Homo sapiens: one gene and its partners. The protein of the gene in region 3 purifies or fractionates together with the protein of the main gene of each other region. This does not show direct contact. Each region holds a gene or a part of one and is shown on either strand. Other genes may lie near its edges.

Region 1 (4,853 bases), on a different chromosome or scaffold from region 3:
AAAAGCCAGATGGATGGTGGGGCCTCTTGGCCACTGTACATACCAGATTGTTTTCTTGTGTTACATGAAACATTAAGGAAATGGAAAGCAAAATCTATTATCGTATGTCCTGTTTTCACACAGACAAGGAGAAAGATAGTACCAGCCCTTCTCGGTTACTACTGTGGTCACTCTGGGGCAGTGAAACCCTTCACAAAGCCTGGGGCACAACAGTGCTTACTTGCCCAGCTCAGAGGGTTATGGGTCTTAACTCCTTCAGACCCTGGACTGGTAAGGCCAGGTCAGATGGCAGTCCTGGGGACATGAGAAAGGCCTGAAGAATCACACAGATGTTCAAGGTCAGAGCAGAAACAAGGGTCAGAAATGGGGTAGGAACTGTTAGCACTAGACAGACAAAACAGTTCCCAAACCAGGAAGCTGGAAGCCAGGAGGACACAAATTCCAGAGCAAGGCAGGGGTCAGAAGTTCCAATGAAAAGCAAATGACTGGTGGGAGCCGAAGGCAGGGTAAGCACGGTGGGTTACTCTCGGAATAAGAATATTTTGTTATCTGAGGCAGCCAATGGCCTTTGAGTGCCTCTCAAGGCAGGAACATTTCCTCACTGGCGCCCACTTGGGCCTCGTTCTTGACACTGTAAAGGAAAGGGTCTTTGGGGGTTAAGGACCTTCCCTTCCACAGGAGCTGTGGAATGGGATTCTCCCAGCTAGAAGCCTCTTCTGCCTGTTCCAGTTCACAGGTGGGTGATGAGAAAGTCCATCCACTTCCTGCTTAGCTTTCCTCTGTGCTTGAGCGCCTCTGCTTAACCATCCGTGCCCTTGGTTCAGCTAAACATTCCCACTCACAGGACCCACATGGGCCTTGCTGATACCGGGTGGGTTATGCAGCTTGTAGATGGATATGGAAAAGGAAACTCAGCCTATCAGCACAATGTCTGGTGTGTCTCTTCAGCAGGAAGAGTCCTTCCAGTGTCCAGGGGCTCTTGTCCAGCCCCTGTAAGTGTTGCCTTAGCTGAGAGGAAATGAAAACACATAGGTGGGCATGGGACCCACCCTGCTTAGAATCCCTCTGCCCCATAGGAACCAGTGTCTCTTGTAATGGCCCTTGGGCACAGCTTCCAGGGACTTAGCAAGGGGCTTTCCAGTAATAAGTCATTTCGCACTCTTGGAAGTCCAAGGCTATGGATTCCTGCCAAGTAATTCTAGGTCATGCAGTCCTTCCTGTCCACATAAAGTGTACCCATCAGGAGGCATTTCTCCCATATGACATTCCCCTTTATCCAGGGAAGTAGTATATGAGGAAGTTTAAGCCAGGCCATTTTTCCTCGAAGGAGAATCAGTCTACTCCCGTGACATTGGACATAGACCAGGGATCTGTGTTACCCAGTGTTTCATTGCTGCACCTTGCATGCCCACATGATTGAACTATTCTTTCGGCCAGTTACTCTTTGTAGGGCAGATAATGTCTTCTTAAAATATCTGGCTTTTAAAATATCTGGTCATTTGCCCTTTACTATTTAGCCTTTATTTTGGAGTCACTTTAGGGAGTTTTTGGTTTGGGTCTGCATCGTCATCACTTATCACCAGATGGCAGCAAAGGACCTTGGTCAGATATGAATATGGCCAGCTGCAGACTGTCAGGGCCTTGTGCTGCTCCTCAGGCTCCACCGAGGCTGTCCACACTCCCACTTTTCCCTCCCTACTTCCAACCAAAAGGGCCATGGGCGTTTGGCTGTGGCCCCAGGCTTACACCAGGATGCTGCCGTTGCCTTACTGTTGAGCTGCTTTGGACAGTAGGCTGCTTTGTAGCCCTGCTGGCCTTGCTGTGGACACATAGCAGTTTGCCTGCTTTTGACATCCTCCCCTGCCCCCATCACTTCCCTGACTCCCAGAAGGGGCTACTAGGCTCTTCTCAGTAGGGATTGGAACCCTGGCTGGGTCACAGCCAGTTGGTAACACCACCCTATCTGTCTGCCCTCAGTCCCTTGTAATTAATGGGTTTGTGTGCCCATCCTGACCCCAGCTGGGCTTTGGTACCTGGCTGGATTGTAGTCCCTGAAAGCAGTACTTCTGTAACATCGCTGCCCTCCAAAATGGCCTTTGACTCATTTATGACAAGCACAGCCATGGCACTATCAGTCTCATCAGCTTCCAGACAGCTACCCCCATAGACAGTGATGAGAGTGGCTTGTTGTCCTCTTGGTAAAACCTGCTTCACTCCAGACTTCACCTTTTCCCGTATACAACCAAGGAGGAGAGTTCACCCTTTTTCCTGCCTCAGAGCTTTTGCCATCATGTCTAGTGGATCAGCCCCTGCCCAGGCACCAAGTCCTGCCAGCAGGTCCTTCCTTTCACTCTCTTTTTTGTCTCCTGCTCTTGTGGCATGTTGAGTTGAGAGTCTGAAAACTAAGTTTACTCCCAGCGCCATTCTGCTGCACCACAGTCTTTAACCACCGCAGGTTTTGGGTTCATCTAGGCAGCTACACTCAAAAGACACCCATGGGCTTGGCTGATCCTAGTTTTTTATTCAGCTTTTTCAGTGGATATAGGATATGTAGCCCAGTGTGTTGGCAGGACAGCTTCGAGTGTCTCTCTCAGCAGGAGTTCTCACAGAGTCCGGGGCTATTCCCCCACTTACCACCTCCCAGGATGGCTCAGGTTTAAGGGAATGAAGCCACACAGGTGGGAGCAGGAGCTACTGGCTTAGAGACTGCTGTCTATAATAGTAAACTGTTCTGGGAGCCTTTTCACCAGAAGCCATGAAGTCTGGTCCTATGTATTTCCGGGGAAACAGAACACAAGGAAAATACTTACCTGTGAGTAAGGAGAAAGGGTGTTGCACACCTTTTCTCTCAGCTTGTGATCTTAGCACATGGGGGCCTTTGCTGTTGACCTGTGTAGCCAGTTGTTAAAGATGTAGTGGTGAATACCGTGTCTGTCCTTCTCTTCCCTGCAGTGCGACTGGCTCAACAATTACCACCTGACCTGCAGGGATGTGATTGGGAAGGAATTGCAGAAACAGGGCCGCCAGGAAGCTCTCGAGTGGCTCATCAGAGAGACGCAACCCATCTCCAAACAGCATTAATAAATACCTCCCCGGTTTTGTTTTTGTAAAATGCTCTGGAGGAAGGAAGAAACGTGGCAGATCCCTGACATCTTTCCCCTTTCCTTTCCTTCTTCCCTACCTCCCCTTTTTACTTTAGACTTTAAGAAGAACAGAAAATCTTCTTATCCTCTTTGATATTTTATTGCAAACACTCAGTCTTTTATGATTTTTTAATTGTTGAGAACAAGCCAAGAATAAAATTGCTGCACCAGAAGGAGGGTCCCTCCAAAGTTGAACACTTGGTGAAAGGAAGATGCCCCGACTTCTTTGGCCAGTGATGGGGAATCAGTGAGTGCTCCATGATGGTCATGTTCCAGGTGCTAGTACATCATTCATGATCACCTTAATGCTCATGAGACTATATTTATGATCAGTGAATAAAAATGTCAGAACTGTGCTTTGTCTTAGCTGTCTCTTTCTTCATGGTGCTGTCCCCCGGCATGTCGGGTGAGCTGATCTCCAGGGCTGCTGGCTCTGTGGCAGACATTTCCTAGGTGGAAGGGCCCCTTTGAGAAGAGACCCCTGGCCTCCCCGCACATTTGGGGGCTTAGTTGTAAGCTTTTTCTTTTCTCTAGAAAACCTAATATTATGGTGTTTTTATCTCAGTTTTTTTTCCTGATTTTAAAATATGTCATTCCTATGCAAAAAACAATAAAAATTATGTCAAAAGTCAGTTTTCCATAACTCACCCTATAGCAGATGCCACAAGTGTCTTACCTACATGGCCACAGCTCTCATTGTTCCGTTACTTGTAGGCAGGATTCTGTGACAAGTGCCTGCGACTCCCATTCTGCAGGATTTCTTTTGACTTGTATATGTGGGGCAAGCTCCAAGGGTTGGAGAGTTAATGTCCCTGAGATCTCAGACCATCACGTTTGGGGATGGGATGGGCAAATAGACTTCCTCATCCTTTGGCTAAGATATCAGAGGTATGTCTTACATTGTCACTCAGGGTTTCCCAGTGGGATTGAGCCCCACTTGCCCACCATGGTAACTTGCTCAATAACCAACCCTTTGTTTTCTTTCTTCTCTTCCATGTCCTACTTTCTTCCTGTCCCATTAGTGTTTCCTGGTACCATCCTGAATGAACCATTTACATGCAAATCCTTGTTTTAGGGTCTGCTTTTTTATTAATCCAACCTGACATACTCCTTAGATATAACCACTATTATCTGCTTTATATTTTTTGCTGACTCCTTTTTTTTTTGTATTCAAAATTTACTAAAATACTGATTATTTGTGTATGTATGAAAGAATATGCCATATATGAACATATCACATTTACAAACAGTGAATTATTCTGTACGTATACAATTTTATCTTTTAACTTGGCAATATTTTAGATTGAATTATTTTTAATGACTTAATTCCATCGTATGGTTATATTGTTTTAAAACTAGCCTCATTAACTTTTTAAAAACAGTAATACTAGCATTTAGACATAATTTTTTAAAAAATGTATTAGTCTTAAATCATATAGAAAACAAAAACTGGAATCACAAGCTATCAGTACACTAATACTGGTTTTTATAATTGCCCAATGTATTTATTTTTCTTGAGATCTTTATTTCTTCATACTGCTTTGGGTTACTGTCTAGTGTCCTTTCATTGTACTTTGCAGAACTCCTATAAGCATTTCTTGCAGGGTGGGTCTAGTGGTACTGAACTCCCTCAGCTTATGTTTACCTGGGAACCTCTTAATTTCTCCCTCACTTTTGAAGGGCAGTTTTGCTGGATATAGGATTCTTTGG
Region 2 (4,853 bases), on a different chromosome or scaffold from region 3:
TGGGACCAGCAGGGGAGGCCCCTCAGAGACCATTGGTTCACTGCTCTGAAAATCATCCAACACCAAAGCCAACTGGAAGCATGAGATGACAGGGTCATGAAAAGCAATGTGATGCTGCTACCCAGGGTTAGGGAGGAGCCTGCACCGTGAGGCAAGAGTGGGCATCACCAAAGTTTTGCATTAAAGTAAATGACAGCATCAGAATGCACTGTCTGCGTAACTTTCAACCCAAGAACATTACTGTATGGACACTTACACGGTAGCTACCTGGAAGAAGAGTTTGGTGATGTCGAATATTTTATATAACTTAATATTTTTGAGTGCTACAAAAATATCCCAAACAAACTTGAAGCGCTTCATGAGTCCTTAATATTTAAAGGCTGTTTTAGTATCAGTGCATCTCGTCAGCATGCTGAGCCTTCCACCCATAATTTTTTTTTGGATCTCCAATCAAATCTGAGATTTTTAATCAAATTCTAAGGCATGAGTAGGCACTGAACATTAAAACAAGCCCATCTTCGAGAGCAAATGTTATGCCTTTCAGAATACTTTCGAGAGGCAATAAGATAGCCATAAACCATACGACTTTAAAAAAAGCAACAAAACCAGCAAATGCTGAGCCACTGCGAGGAGAGTGTGGAATGGGCATGGAGCTCTGGGTACTCACTGATGGTTATCTTCTCAGATAAAAACAACTCCAGCGTTTTATTAAAAATAATTTTTAGTCAAAGCATTTCAAACAGCAACCTCAGAAACTTGAACACATTTGAAAAAGTAACAGCAATCATTATAAATGAAAAGATACCAACCTGGGAGCACTGCATGGACTCTGTCACTCCAGAACAGTAAGAAACAAATATAAATGCGGAGCAAGGCCTCCCCTTGGATGTACACATTGACTACTAGGCCTAAAGTGACTTAGTTGTTTTGCAAGCTAATGGTAAATAAAGCTCGCGCTGCTGCCTAAACGCTTTGGAAAACTTCCTCATGGCAATTCAGCACTGTGCTTCACATCAGCCGCAGAAAGGTGTTTTGGGGTTTTTTTTTTTTGTTTTATAACGCCCACTTCCTTTAACAAGTGAAACAAGTAAAAAATAAACAAATGAAAGAAAAGGGGAGACAGGAAGAAGGGGGGAAAGAAGACAAGGAGGGCAGGAAAGAAGAGGAGAGACGCACTCCCATGCTCAGAGCCCCATGGCCACACAGGGTCCCTGCCCAGGTGACGCGGCCGCTCAGGAGCACGGAGGCTTCTCACCAACTGCGTCAGGAAAACACCAGGACCACCTGGGGAAGATAAAACTTTTTTTCTTTAAATAAATCTATAAAGTAAAACACTGTTACAAGGGGAAAAGAAAGCCCCACTTTATGTATTTGGTTGCCCATGGTTTTAGGAGCATCTAATCTAATTTCAACTGAACTCCTAATGAACTAGTCATGCACAGATGAGTCTGCTTCAGCCCCTGTCTCCTCCATTCCAGGGGCTTCTGGAAATGGGCCTCTTCTACATACAGTTTAAAGCAGAGCTGGGTGGACTGTTAGAGGTAGGTTACAGGAGGAATAAAGACCCATCTTCAGAGGAGGTCTCAGCACCACGACATGGGAGCACCTCTCAGGACAAACGATAACTTGAGCGGCATTAACGCTGAAACGAAGCACCCCTTGCAGCGTCTGTCGCTGGTGCCTGCAGATGGCCTGCGCTGCACTTGGGTCATGCCGCACCCAACAGGAGTCAGAAGGTGACTCGCCACTATGGCCGTCTACTCACATGCAACAGTCCATGCAGAGGGCAGCTGGGGGTGTGCATTCGGAGGCTTTGGGATAGAAAGCAGGGGAATAACACTAAGGGCAGGGGACAAGAGTCAGCAGAGAACACGCCAGGGAGCCACAAGGGAAAACTGCTTAAGAAAACACTGAAGACTTAAGAAACTTTAGTGACTTGAAACCACTGGAGTTCACAACACTAAAATACAGGTTTAGGACTGAAGTGTCTTTTTGTGCATGAAGTATTAAGAGTCCCTGAATATAATTTGAATTAAATAAGAAGAGCTCCTATTTGTAGGTTAATACATGTAAATTATTGTATATTTTTGCTATATACGGAGATATACTGGAACTACTGCGGAGTTACATTACATCTTAAGCAGTTTCAAGCAGATAGTATTATCCGAATTTTAGTAATGCATTCAGTGGACTTAGGTTCAGACTACAAGAAAGTGAATAAGGAAGGTTCGCTTTACACCTGGGTCAGAAAGGCTGGATTCCCAAAGCCTCCGAAGCCCCAGCTACCCAACTTGCTCTACGTCATCTAACTATGAACAGTAAGGTAGGCACAGACCAAGCAGTTGGTAATACAGCTTGGCACGCAGACACCGGACGAGAGAGACTGCAGCAAGGGTTTCACGTGATCGTGTGTAATGTTCGTCCACACCTTAGTCTTCGACTTGGGACTGCTTCCATTCTGCCCTTCCTCGGAAGCTTCGTCGCCCCGGCCAGAGTTCAGCCATCTTGTCTTCTCCCGCTGCTGCTTCTGAAAACTGTGTCTGAGTGGGGAGCAAGTGCCCGAATCACCGTCACTAGCAAAGGAGTAACCTGTGACACTAGCAGGAACCTCCACATCGCTGTATTTTTTAGACTTCTCTCTCAGAGCAGGGTATCGATAAGGGTAGCCAGTTCTGTAGCCCTAGGGTCCAAGGAGAGTGAAAGACAGTCAATATTCCAGATCTCAAAACAGGGTTTCACTTTGGAAAATCATGTGGAAACATCCACAAAAGTTGAACACATGCATACCCTATGACTCAGTAATTCCACTCCTAATTTTACACCCCACAGAAGCAAATGTGTTCACCAAAAACCAGGTACTAAAATGTGGACAGCAACCCTACTCCTCGTAAACCACAATTGGAAACAACCCAAAAGTCCATCCATATAGGAGATGGATAGTCTAGTGTCTTCATAAGAAGGCTTATAGTGACACAATGTGCTCTAAACCAACCACGTGGATGACTCTCCTGAAGGCAACGCTGAGTGAAAGAGACCAACCTGCAAAGAACATACACCATGTAATACCATTCATTAAAAGTGCAGAAGATGCAAAACAACCTTTGTTTTGGTTGTCCTGGGAGACAGGACAGTTGTCACCCCTGGGATGGGACAAGTGAACTGAAGGAGGTGCTGGGGGTGTTCTGAGGTGCTGCTACCGTTGCTCTTATTGACTGCTGGTTATACAGGGGGTTCAGTTTTTAAAAATGAACAAACTGAACACTTGCGGTAGGTGCACTCTCCTGCTTACATATTTCAACAAAAAATTAAAGTTGAACACCCAAACAGGGTTTACTTGCTGCCAGCCACTGTGCAGGTTATATTCATCAACATACTTAATAGACTTTTACCTCTTAAGTTACAGTTTAAATACTGTGATAATCTTTAGGTAAGTAAGGTAAGTAAGTATACCTCATGACAACTGGTTCTCAGCAAAATTACTTTACGTCTGAATACAACAACATTCAAATTCACCTCCAGCTCTGCCTCATGACCATGTGCTCTGTGGTAAAAGACAGCCCCACTTACTTCATGCCTCTACTGGACCAACTCATCTGCAGAGTCCTCCCACAGACAGCATCTCTAAGGGCATGGACGGTGTCCTCTGCATCTCTCCTGGCCACACTTGGTAAGTGTGACAGACAGACTTCACAGTGGCCCCAGGCCCCCAGCTCCTGTAATCCCCTCCCACCTTGAGCACAGGTGAGATCTCTGACTTGCTTCTAAGTAGCGGAATTCACAAAAGGTGATGATGGGCTGTATCACAGAAGAGTTTAGCACCTATCTTATAAGAGTCTCTGTCTCTACTGCTGGCTCTGAAGAAGTAAAGCTGCCAAGAATGCTTCAGCCCTAAGAAAAGGAATTCTGTCCCCAGTCTAGAAGAGCCTGGATGTGGATCCTCTGAGTCAAGTCTCCTGATGAGAACCCAGCCCTAGCCAACACCCTGAATGCAGCCTTTATGAGACCCTAGGTTGAGTTCGCTGTGCCTGGACTCCTGCCCCACAGAAGCTAGGAAATAAATGGCTGCTGTTCGAAGCCACCAGGCCTGTAGTGATTTGTTGCCCAGCACAGAGAGGTAATACGGGGGATGCTGAAGAGCTGTCTGCTCAACAACCTAACAGATTCGCACCTGAACCAAGTCACTCACAGCACCTTCACAATACATCACAAGAGAATCAGGACTTGGAGGGACTGCACAGGGTCAGACATACAAGACACTTCAGTGGCCTGTGCCCTGCTGGCTGTGGTACTCTAGAAACAGTCCTCTCAATTCAGAATTCTCTCTCCCCTCTGGGTACTGCTCTTTTTTGGGGGCCATCTTCATTACTAATCACTCTTTCAATATTTTTTTTATTTTTTTAATTTAATTTTTTTTTTTTGAGACAGAGTCTCACTCCATTGCCCAGGCTGGAGTGCAGTGGCGCCATCTTGGCTCACTGCAACCTCCGCCTCCCAGGTTCACACTATTCTCCTGCCTCAGCCTCCTGAATAGCTGGGACCACAGGCACGTGCCACCACACCCGGCTAATTTTTTGCATTTTTAGTAGAGACGGAGTTTCACTGTATTAGCCAGGACGGTCTCAATCTCCTGACCTCATGACCCACCTGCCTCAGCCTCCCAAAGTGCTGGGATTATAGATATGAGCCACCACGCCCGGCCTCCTTTTATTTTTTTGAGATGGAGTCTTGCTCTGTCACCCAGGCTGAAGTGCTGTGGCTCGACCTTGGCTCACTGCAACCTCTGCCTCCCGGGTTCAAGTGCTTCTTCTACCTCAGCCTCCCGAGTAGCTGGGATTACAGGCACCCTCCACCAC
Region 3 (5,404 bases):
TCACCTCTGCACAAATGAGAATTGAGCTCAGCCCTTTCCCCTACTATCAGTGGTTTACTGAATAAAATCTGTTTTCACTACTTTAACGAATGTCTGGCTGGGTTTATCTTTGACAGCAGTCAGAATAACTTTTTTGTTTTTACTTTGAAACTTTTACTTTGAGACTAAGAGGCAAAAATAGACATCTTTGGGCTTAGGTAAGAAAATGATAGGCTCATGAAGGTGAAACTACTATTTGAAAGCTCTCAGCTTGCTGATTGAGAGGAAAATCAGGTGCAGGAAATAATCTCTTCTCTAAATATTTTCCCCATGGCTGGCAGCAGGCTTTTTGTCATGTAGTCAGATGTCTTTGATTCAGCTGGAAGAAAAGTCATCATCCTAGCTAAAGGTCAAACTTTTTGAGTAGGACTGAGCAGCTCTGAAACATGTAAAGGAGCAAGTTTTAAAAGCCATAGGCTAGAAAATATACTGGCAGCTTGTTTCACAGACATTTCCATTCAACAGTATTATTCTGTGATGTTACTTTCACCCACTTTCGTACCAGAGAAAGCAAAAACAATTGTAGAGTGGAAGTAAAAGACGCATGAAAAATTTGGAGTCAACAGAAGTCCACTAAATCCAGGTTCTGCTACATATTAGCTGTAAGTGTGCACGCTGCTCTTAGAGTTTCAGGAATTAAAATTGCCCATTTCACAAAGATGCCATTCCCTAGGAGGAAAATAAAATTAACATGGTAAATTCAATTTTATCAACCAGTTTACCTTTTACTATAAACTGGCTGGAATATGCAGTACTACAATTTGACTTAAATTTGATCCAGCTCTTTGAGCCCAAGTTCTAGTATTTACTATCAACAATACATTATGTTAAATGCACACATTGAGATGGATAGCTCCTTCTCAGGCTGGAAACTAAACGACCTTCACTTGATAAGACCTCTTGTGAGACCAGTCAGTGCAGAGTCAGCCAGTGATAATTGTTCTCTTTAAGGGGAGGCACATGTTTGGGGTACAGTGAACGTAGGTTGGAGCCTTAGTTTGAGCATTGGGAAAGTCAGTGGAATCAAAAGTCTGGTTCAAGTCCCTGCCCTGCCTTTTCTTCACTGAGTAACTTTGAGAAAGTTGTTTTACTTTTCTAAGCCTCATTTTTCTAATCTTTAAGTTAATGTCTAAAGTCCCTTTCAGCTATAGAATTGTCTTAGTGATCTTAGCCCTATGGTAAAAGATTCCAGTATAATTTAAGAATTTGGCCAAATGGTGTTTGTTTGTTTTTGTTTTTTTTTTTTTGTTTTTGTTTTTTTGAGGCAGGTTTTCCCTCTGTTGCCCAGGCTGGAGTGCAGTGACCCGATCTTGGCTCACTGCAACCTCTGCCTGCCAGGTTCAAGTGATTTTTGTGCCTCAGACTCCTGAGTAGCTGGGACCACAGGGATGCAGCACCATACCCAGCTAATTTTTGTATTTTTTGGTAGAGATGGGGTTTCACTATGTTGGCCAGGGTGGTCTCGAACTCCTGACCTCAAGTTATCCACCTGCCTCGGCCTCCCAAAGTGTTGGTATTACAGGTGTGAGCCACTGCACCTGGCCAAAAAAGTTTATTAGTACATGCGATTTTAAAACACCAGTCATATGAAATTATATCCCCTTAAATCACTGTGTCTAGGTTATACTGTGTCTAGGTTATACAACCTTATTGTTGAATTTTATTACCCAAACACTTGTTTTTTTGAGACCGAGTCTTGCTCTGTTGTCCAGGCTGCAGTGCAGTGGCATGATCACAGCTCACTGCCTCAACCTCCTGGGCTCAATCAGTCCTCTCACCTTAGCCTTCTTTGTATATGGGATTACCGGTGTGCCCTACCATGCCCAGGTAATTTTGATATTTTTTTTTTTTTGTAGAGACAGGGTTTCACCTTGTTTCCCAGGCTGGTCTTGAACTCAAGCAATCTACCCACCTTAGCCTCCCAAAGTGCTGATTATAGACATAAGCCACTGTACCACTTACCTTATTTAGAGCATTCTTCCTAAGGTCCTCCAGGTACTTTTCATTAGCTCTTTTTCCTGCCTGAAATACTCTTTCCCCGGAACTTATAACTGGCTCCTTTGGCTGTTCTAGTCTCTTAAGAGAGGCTGTTCCTGATCACCCAATCTAAAGTGAACACCATGTTTGCTTCTGTCATAATTCCTTATTTTAATTTTATTGTAGCATGTACTACTGCATGGTATGACATTTTATTTCTAGTCTTTTTTTTTTTTTTTTTTTTTTTTTTTTTTTGAGACAGGGTCTTACTTCTACATCCTCGAACTGGGCTCCACTTTTTTCATTATTAAATTGTATCTGGCATATGGCAGCAAGAACAGAAATGTCAGTTTCTGCTTGACTTTGGTATTGGGGCTTCTGATGGGGAAAAAAATTGAAACAAGGAAGTGAGGAGACTTCAGTGTAAATTTAGCTTGTCATTTCTCAGGAATCTTACGTATGTCATTTGTTACCTAGTCTTTTACAAATTAATAAAATGATTGCTGTTAGGATCTTGATTGATGATATCAAAACATGTTAATACCACACTTTTAATAGAAAATGTGGTAAATTATTGTGGTATAAAAAATGCAGGCCAGGTGCGGTGGCTCATGCCTGTAATCCTAGCACTTTGTGAGGCCGAGGTGGGCGGATCACCTGAGGTCAGGAGTTCGAGACCAGCCTGACCAACATGGAGAAACCTGTCTCTACTAAAAATAAAAAATTAGCCAGGCATGGTGACGCATGCCTGTAATCCCAGCTACTCGGGATGCTGAGGCAGGAGAATCGCTTGAACCTGGGAGGCAGAGGTTGCAGTGAGCCGAGATCGCGCCATTGCACTCTAGCCTGGGCAACAAGAGTGAAACTTCACCTCAAAAAATAAAATAAAATGCAAAAGGTACAAAAGAATATAGTAGTAAAAAGTAAATCCATATTTTTCATCCAGTCCCATTTATCAAAGGTAACTCTTGCCAGTTTTTGTGAATCCTTTCTAGAACTATTCTCTGCATCTATATAAGCACATTTTTTCCTTACTTTGCATAAATAAGACTGTTATATAGACAGCACATGCCTATATACCTTCGTCTTTTTTAATGACTGTATATCATTCCATCATAGGTGAACTCTGATGTATTTAGCATTTAGCTTGTTTCTCCCTTTTGCTATTACCATAAGGCTGGAGTACCCATCTTTTAAACCTTGCACGTGTTTTTGTACACATGTGGGAATAAATTTGTAGGATAAATTCCGCAAAGTGGAATTGTTGGTCTTGAAAATAATTGCATTTAAAATTTTGATATATATTAGTGGATAGATTTTTAAATCCTTAATATACCTCCAGTGGAAACTAAAACAAAGATATTATTTTAACTTACAAATCAAATAAGTATTTAAACTATGTTGGCATCATAAAATAAGGCTCCTGATAACATTTATGATGATTTAATAAATATTCCAGATATTGATTATAAAATTGTTTCTGTTGTAAATTAATAAACTTTTCATTTATGGAACACTGATGGTAGAAATCTACATTATTGGAAAACCAGTTGTCTTAGTCCATTTTCTGCTGCTATAACAATACTTGAGACTGGGTAATTTATAAAGAAAAAAATTTATTTGGTTCATGGTTCTGGAGGCTGAGAAGGGTGAGGGCCTTCTTGCTGTGTTATCCCATGGCAGAAGGCGAGGGTGAGAGAGAAAGCAAGAAAGGGTCGAACATGCCTTTTTTTTTTTTTCTAAAGGGACAGGGTCAGGTGCAGTGGTTCATGCCCATAATCCCAGCACTTTGGGAAGCTGAGGCTGGAGGATTTCATGAGACCAGGAGTTAGAGGCTGCAGCAAGCTATGATCATACCACTGCAATCCAGCCTGGGTGACAGAGCAAGACCCCATCTCAAAAAATAAGGAGTCGGGCCGGGCATGGTGGCTCATCCCTGTAATCCCAGTACTTTGGGAGGCTGAAGCAGGCAGATCACTTAAAGTCAAGAGTTCGAGATGAGCCTGGTCAGTATGGTGAAACCCTGTCTCTACTAAAAATACAAAAAAATATAGCTGGGCTTGGTGGCATACGCCTGTAGTTCTAGCTACTTGGGAGGCTGGGGTGGGAGAATTGCTTGAACCTGGGAGGTGGAGGTTGCAATGAGTCGAGATCGCGCCATTGCACTCCAGCCTGGGCCTCACAGTGAGACTCCATCTCAAAAACAACAACAACAACAACAACAAAAGGAGTCTTGCTACTATCTTACCCATGCTGGACTTGAACTCCCAGGCTCAAGGGATCCTCCCACTTACACCTGTAGCTGGGATTACAGGTGTACCCAGATGAACTCACATTTAAAACCAACCCACTCCTGCAATAAGGAACCCAGTCTTACCATAATGACGTTAATCCATTCATGGAGGGCAGATCCCAGATGACCCAGTCATCTCTTGATGGTCCCACCTCCCAACATTGTTGCATTGGAGATTGTTTCCAACACATGAAGATTAGGGACATATTCAAACCATAGCATCAGTTAAACCTGTCAGCTACAAATTCTCTATATAGTCTCACTTTCATCACATCAAAGGATAAAGGATAATTTTAACACTGGTGGGGAGGGTTTTTTTTGTCTTTTAAACAATGAGAATAGATGTCTTAACTTTGTTTATGTTTATATAGGGCACAGACCATCATGAAGGCTCGTTTAAAGGGAGCACAGACAGGTCGAAACCTCCTGAAGAAAAAATCTGATGCCTTAACTCTTCGATTTCGACAGATCCTAAAGAAGATAATAGAGGTAGAATGAACTTTTCTTAGAATAGTATTTATTTTAGAAAAATCCAGCATGGCCCTTGGCATTTTTTTTTTTGTTGTTGTTATTTTAATTAATTTTTTTCTTTCAAAAGTAAAAATACCATTATAAGTTTAACAAGTGTCAAATATCAAATAGTTCATTTAATAAAATCCAAACTCTTTAATCTTGCCTGCAAAGCTCCACTTGATCTGATTGGCCCCCCGCCTGCCTCTCTTACCTTATTTAGAGCATTCTTCCTAAGGTCCTCCAGGTACTTTTCATTAGCTCTTTCTCCTGCCTGAAATACTCTTTCCCCAGAACTTATAACTGGCTCCTTTAGCTGTTCTAGTCTCTTAAGAGAGGCTGTTCCTGATCACCCAATCTAAAGTGAACACCATGTTTGCTTCTCTCACAATTCCTTATTTTAATTTTATTGTAGCATGTACTACCGCATGGTATGACATTTTATTTCTAGTCTTTTTCTTTTTTTTTTTTTTTTGAGGCAAGGTCTTACTCTGCAGCCTCAAACTGGGCTCCAGTGATCCTCCCACCTCAGCCTCTCGAGTAGCTGTGACTACAGGTGCATGCTACCATTCTCAGCTCATTTTT
Region 4 (4,853 bases), on a different chromosome or scaffold from region 3:
ATGTGCAGTTCACAATAGGGTTCGCGCTCCTGTGAGAGTCTGATGCCACTGCTGATCTGACAGGAGGCGGAACTCAGGCGGTAATGCCCACTCATCCACCCCTCACCTCCTATGTTGTGGCCCGGTTCCTAACAGGCCATGAACCAGTACTGGTCCACGGCCTGGGCGTTGGGGACCCCTGAGATAAAGGACCTGGCTGATGAGTAAAATGAGCTGTTTTATCCCTTTTGCATTCTGAACGCTCTGTTTATACATCCCAAGGCGCCCACGTCATGTGCACGTTTAACGTGGACATTGACACTAGCACCGCATCCCTTGACTCCACTGTATTTCTTTGTTTCTCATTTTAAAACTAGTGTGGGCCTTTGACAAGTTCCAAGAACATAAGGAGGAAAATGCACATCATCTGTAATTTCACCACTTAGAACCTCCGTTAACCTTTAGGTACATGTTCATTGGTTTTTGTTTACATATGTATACATCCTTGCATAGGTCTTAGTTACACTCTAAGCACAGATGCGTGTCTTGTTTTCAGCAGTTGATATATATTAAACATTTTCCCATCATAATGCTTCATGAACTTTGTAGTGGCTGCAAAGTATTTCACTATGCAGTTGTACCATACTGTAACCATTTCCCTAAATGTTAGCTTTTCCTAGCTTTTCTCTATTATAAAGTTGCAGGAAACATCTTTGTGCTGTAAATCTTATCTTTTCTCAAATCAGTCTGTGACAGTAGTACATAATGGTTGAGAGCACAGGCTCTGGAACCAAACTACCCGGATTCATATCCCAGCTCTGTCAGCTTCCATTTAGATGAACATGTTGCTTATTATCATCTCTGTGCCTCGGATTTCTCATCTGTGAAGCAAAGACAACAGCACCTACCGCTGAATGGTTAGGGGTTAAATGAGGAAGCATTTACATACTCAGAACGGTCTTTGGCACGTGACCAGCAGCACTTACGTACAAATATTGGCTATTACTTTTATTGCTGTTATTCTGATAAAATAACTGGTCAGAATATTCTGGTTTATTTTTAATGACAATATTAAGCTAATTTTTCTATTCTTCGCTATTTGATAGAAATCAGGAAGTCACTTCAGCATCTTATTGATTGATTTCTTTCTTTTCTAGATATACAAGAAGAGATGTCCTTCCACTAGGAAAATTTACAGTTAACTTGAGTGGTTGCCCACGGAATAGTACCTTCACAGAACACTTGTATCGAATTATTCAACATCTTGTTCCAGCAGTAAGATGAATATAAATATGTATTATAAACCTAAGCACACTTAAAAAATCCATCTAACTGTCTTTCATTCACTTCAAATATTTAACTTAGAGATTTTAATAGATCTTATTTAAGGGGAAACAAAGCCTGCCAAATTACATAATTTAAAATGTACGTTCCCCTAAACATTTCACTTTTTTTTGTCTTTTTGCCTAAGCACAAATTTCTGTAAGTCTAACAAAACAATTGTAGTAACTCCCTTAAAATTACACTCTCTTGATACCAATTTGTCCAATTTGGTATCCTTTTTGTACACTAAAGTCTTAAATCTAAATAAACTCTAAATTGTAGGAGCATAATTCTTTTAGTTGAGGTAATAAAGTTCTTTATCTCCATTGCCTCAATTTTAATTCCTGTTTGGAAAGTTGAGCTCACTTTATTTGCCAGGGTATCTGGAATGCAGTATTTGCGTGGTGGTAGGATCTTGGGAACAGGGGAATTGCTTCTGATTAGTTGTGTGACTGAAAATACTGATCACTTCTTTGGAAATTGAAGAGGGTGCACTAGATCTTTATTGAACCGAATGTATTCAGTGTCTCAGTGCTAACACTCGTCCAGGCCCTCAAGAAGCAGAAGTGGACTGGAATATACCAGCAGTTCTCAGTCTCCTTAGACTCACTTTACACTCTGAAAAATGTGTTCATACTCAAAGAGCTGTTTTTCACGTTATGATTATATTTATCATTAATTTACCAAACTAGAAGATAAAGTAAATACACCTATTAAAAATAAAAAATTACATATAAATATTTTTATAAAAACAACTTTTCCCAAGCCAAAAATGATTAGTGATAAAGGTGACATTGTTTTACATTCTTGCAAATCTCTTCAATGTCTGGATTAATAGGAGACAATGGATGCTTGTATCTGCTTCTGCCTTCAGTCTATTGTAGTCTCAGGTTTTGGTTGAAGTATATGAAGGAAAGCTGGCCTCACACAGATGGAAAAGTAGATGGTAAAGGAAGGATGGTTTCGATAGCCTTTGCAGATAACTGGGTGGTGGTCTTTGATACTAGACCAAAACTGTCCACATGAGATTTTCTTAAAGATAGTTAAGTGTGGAATCTGAAATCCTATTCGTAAACTTTCCATAGTCTGCTATGGTAAAATTCATTAGTCTCGCACATTGAAAGGATCTTTTATCCATGCATGATTTTGACCTGATTGACCCTGTAAAAGGGTTTAAGCAATTCCCTGGGGGTTCTCGGGACCACATTTTGAGAATTATTGAAACAGATCCTTTGCCCTCACAGAGTTTAGGTAGAAGACCAACAAATAAATTAATACATGGTAGGTCATTTAAGCACCCCTAAGCTCCCCGTTTTCTTAGAATCACTGAGGTAATACACAAAACTCCTCTAAATTTTCGCAATATATCTTACCTCTTCCTTGACAGCCTTCCCCCACCATACCCTCTTCTCCATCCCTGCCACATTGTTTGAGGCTGGAGGGATGGAAGAATGGATTGGTGTATAAGGCAGAGCACAGAGGGTGTTGGGAATGGTGGCTCAAGAGCTGGAGGAGGAGCATAGATGGTTCGCTTACTCGTTAAACACTGAGTGAGAAGGTGCTCGCGTCCTGGAGGCACCTCCTGAGAGCTGCAGGTCCATCCACAGCTCAGTGTGCTCTGCTCCTTGATTTTTCTCTGAAAAGTTTGTTCAAAAATGTCTATGATAAATGAATACAATTTTAACTCAAAGAATATAGAGGAAAATTAAGCTTTTCTCTCCCTGTCTTGAAGAGTAAAATTAACATTTTCTTTTTGCTAGCTAGCTTGTGTTAGGTGAAAGAGGTTAGGTTTTGGGGTATTTAATATTTATATGTCAGTTATCTACCATTTGTTTCATTGGTTAAATTAAAATTGATTTTCAAGAATATTGAACAAGACATTTGAGAATAAAGTAGCTCATAAAATGGATGAAATTCAAATGTAAGATCTAGATACTATTTTTGCTTCTGGAGTTCAAGAAACCATATCACTACTCCCTTAGAAATTTATAAGATCACTTTTTCCATATGAAACACAATGTTTAATTCCAAGTACATATTTTCTTAAAACAGGGAAACTTAAATTCTTGTTCACTAAAAAATTTCTCTTTGCAGTCTTTTCGTCTGCAGATGACTATAGAGAACATGAACCATTTGAAATTCATTCCCCACAAAGACTACACAGCCAATCGCTTGGTCAGTGGGCTCCTCCAGCTGCCCAGCAATACTTCCCTTGTAATCGATGAGACTCTCCTGGAACAGGGGCAGCTGGATACCCCAGGTACGTACATAGATGTTTCTCTTCCATTTCTGACTTCCTTCGCACTAAAGCCAGATCTAGGAATAACTTTTAGAAGAGTATCTATGGACAAATTCACATTTAACAACGTAAGATAAAGGCTTGGCATATGAATTTGATTAAAGCATATGTTATAAACTAATTATATACACCAACTATGTTTTGCCATAGTATTCTGAAAGTAGTACAATGGAACAGATATATATCTTATATAATATATCTTATATAATATATATCATATATAATATATAATGTCTCATTTAATATATATCATATATTATATATTTTATATATTATATAATGGAGCAATAATATAAAGGGTAGTATTAGTATAATGGAGCAGTAATATAAAGGGTAGTATTAGATGTTGAGGGTCGTAAGGGTTCTTTGGTGAAAAGTTTTATTGTGTCAGCGAATGGTTGGAGCAGTCTTTATGGGCCTACAGTGTTGGGTTCTTTTGCGTAGTTGTATATAACCTAAAATTTTTTTTTCAGTGAGTGTAAGGAATGGTAGAGACAGGGTCTCGCTATGTTGCCCAGCTGATCTTGAATTCCTGGGCTCAAGTGATCCTCCTGCCTTGGCCTCCCACAGTGCTGGGATTACAGGTGTGAGCCACTGCACCTGCCCCAAATAGCTTTTTAAAAAGCTGAAATGGGAGGAAGCTTTGCCTTTAGTCATCTAATACCTCAAAAGGGAAGTGTAGAAAAGATCTAATATAATTTTTTTTTTGTTTTGAGACGGAGTCTTGCTCTGTCGCCCAGGCTGGAGTGCAGTGGCCAATCTTGGCTCACTGCAACCTCCAACTCCCGGGTTCACACCATTCTCCTGCCTCAGCCTCCCGAGTAGCTGGGACTACAGGCACCCGCCATCACGCCTGGCTAATTATGTTTTAACCTCCCGTTGTAAAGTTTGTAAATGGTTTTCAGAGAATGTCTGAGAAATAATAGATCAAATGGTTTGCACTAACCTCAGTTGCGGAATATATTATAAAATCACAAGAAAGCAGATTGTTTACCAGTGCTCAAATGAAGACAATTAAGAATACACTGCTGGCGATCAGCTCAAGAGGTAAAGGTAGAAGAAAAAATGAGGTAGACTGGGCATGTTTAAGGCAAAGGGGAATATAAAATCTGTAAAATTCACTAGGCTGATCTATGTATGACGGTAGTTTTAGTGTTTCCTTGGTTTAGCCCTGTAAATACACCACTTAGAAATAATCATACTTGGGAACTATTTTATGTCTAGGTGCATACCAGATGCTAGGTATTAGATT

Evidence for each region.
Region 1: the proteins of ATP6V1D (region 3) and XPNPEP1 fractionate together in Homo sapiens (co-fractionation; 2 studies listed by BioGRID). This does not show direct contact.
Region 2: the proteins of ATP6V1D (region 3) and ADD1 purify together in Homo sapiens (affinity purification with mass spectrometry; one large-scale study listed by BioGRID and IntAct). This does not show direct contact.
Region 4: the proteins of ATP6V1D (region 3) and MCMBP fractionate together in Homo sapiens (co-fractionation; one large-scale study listed by BioGRID). This does not show direct contact.

What each region holds. Positions count from the first base shown.
Region 1 is NC_000010.11:109,863,412-109,868,264, reverse strand, and holds the end of XPNPEP1 (xaa-Pro aminopeptidase 1), read left to right. Parts: intron 1-678; coding exon of another isoform or gene 679-736; intron 737-2,952; coding exon 2,953-3,081; coding exon of another isoform or gene 3,082-3,110; 3' UTR 3,111-3,499; downstream 3,500-4,853. UniProt on the Homo sapiens protein: Metalloaminopeptidase that catalyzes the removal of a penultimate prolyl residue from the N-termini of peptides, such as Arg-Pro-Pro. Contributes to the degradation of bradykinin.
Region 2 is NC_000004.12:2,902,591-2,907,443, reverse strand, and holds part of ADD1 (alpha-adducin), read right to left. Parts: intron 2,681-4,853; coding exon 2,336-2,680; intron 1-2,335. UniProt on the Homo sapiens protein: Membrane-cytoskeleton-associated protein that promotes the assembly of the spectrin-actin network. Binds to calmodulin.
Region 3 is NC_000014.9:67,352,317-67,357,720, reverse strand, and holds part of ATP6V1D (V-type proton ATPase subunit D), read left to right. Parts: intron 1-4,680; coding exon 4,681-4,798; intron 4,799-5,404. UniProt on the Homo sapiens protein: Subunit of the V1 complex of vacuolar(H+)-ATPase (V-ATPase), a multisubunit enzyme composed of a peripheral complex (V1) that hydrolyzes ATP and a membrane integral complex (V0) that translocates protons.
Region 4 is NC_000010.11:119,837,244-119,842,096, reverse strand, and holds part of MCMBP (mini-chromosome maintenance complex-binding protein), read left to right. Parts: intron 1-1,136; coding exon 1,137-1,254; intron 1,255-3,396; coding exon 3,397-3,562; intron 3,563-4,853. UniProt on the Homo sapiens protein: Associated component of the MCM complex that acts as a regulator of DNA replication.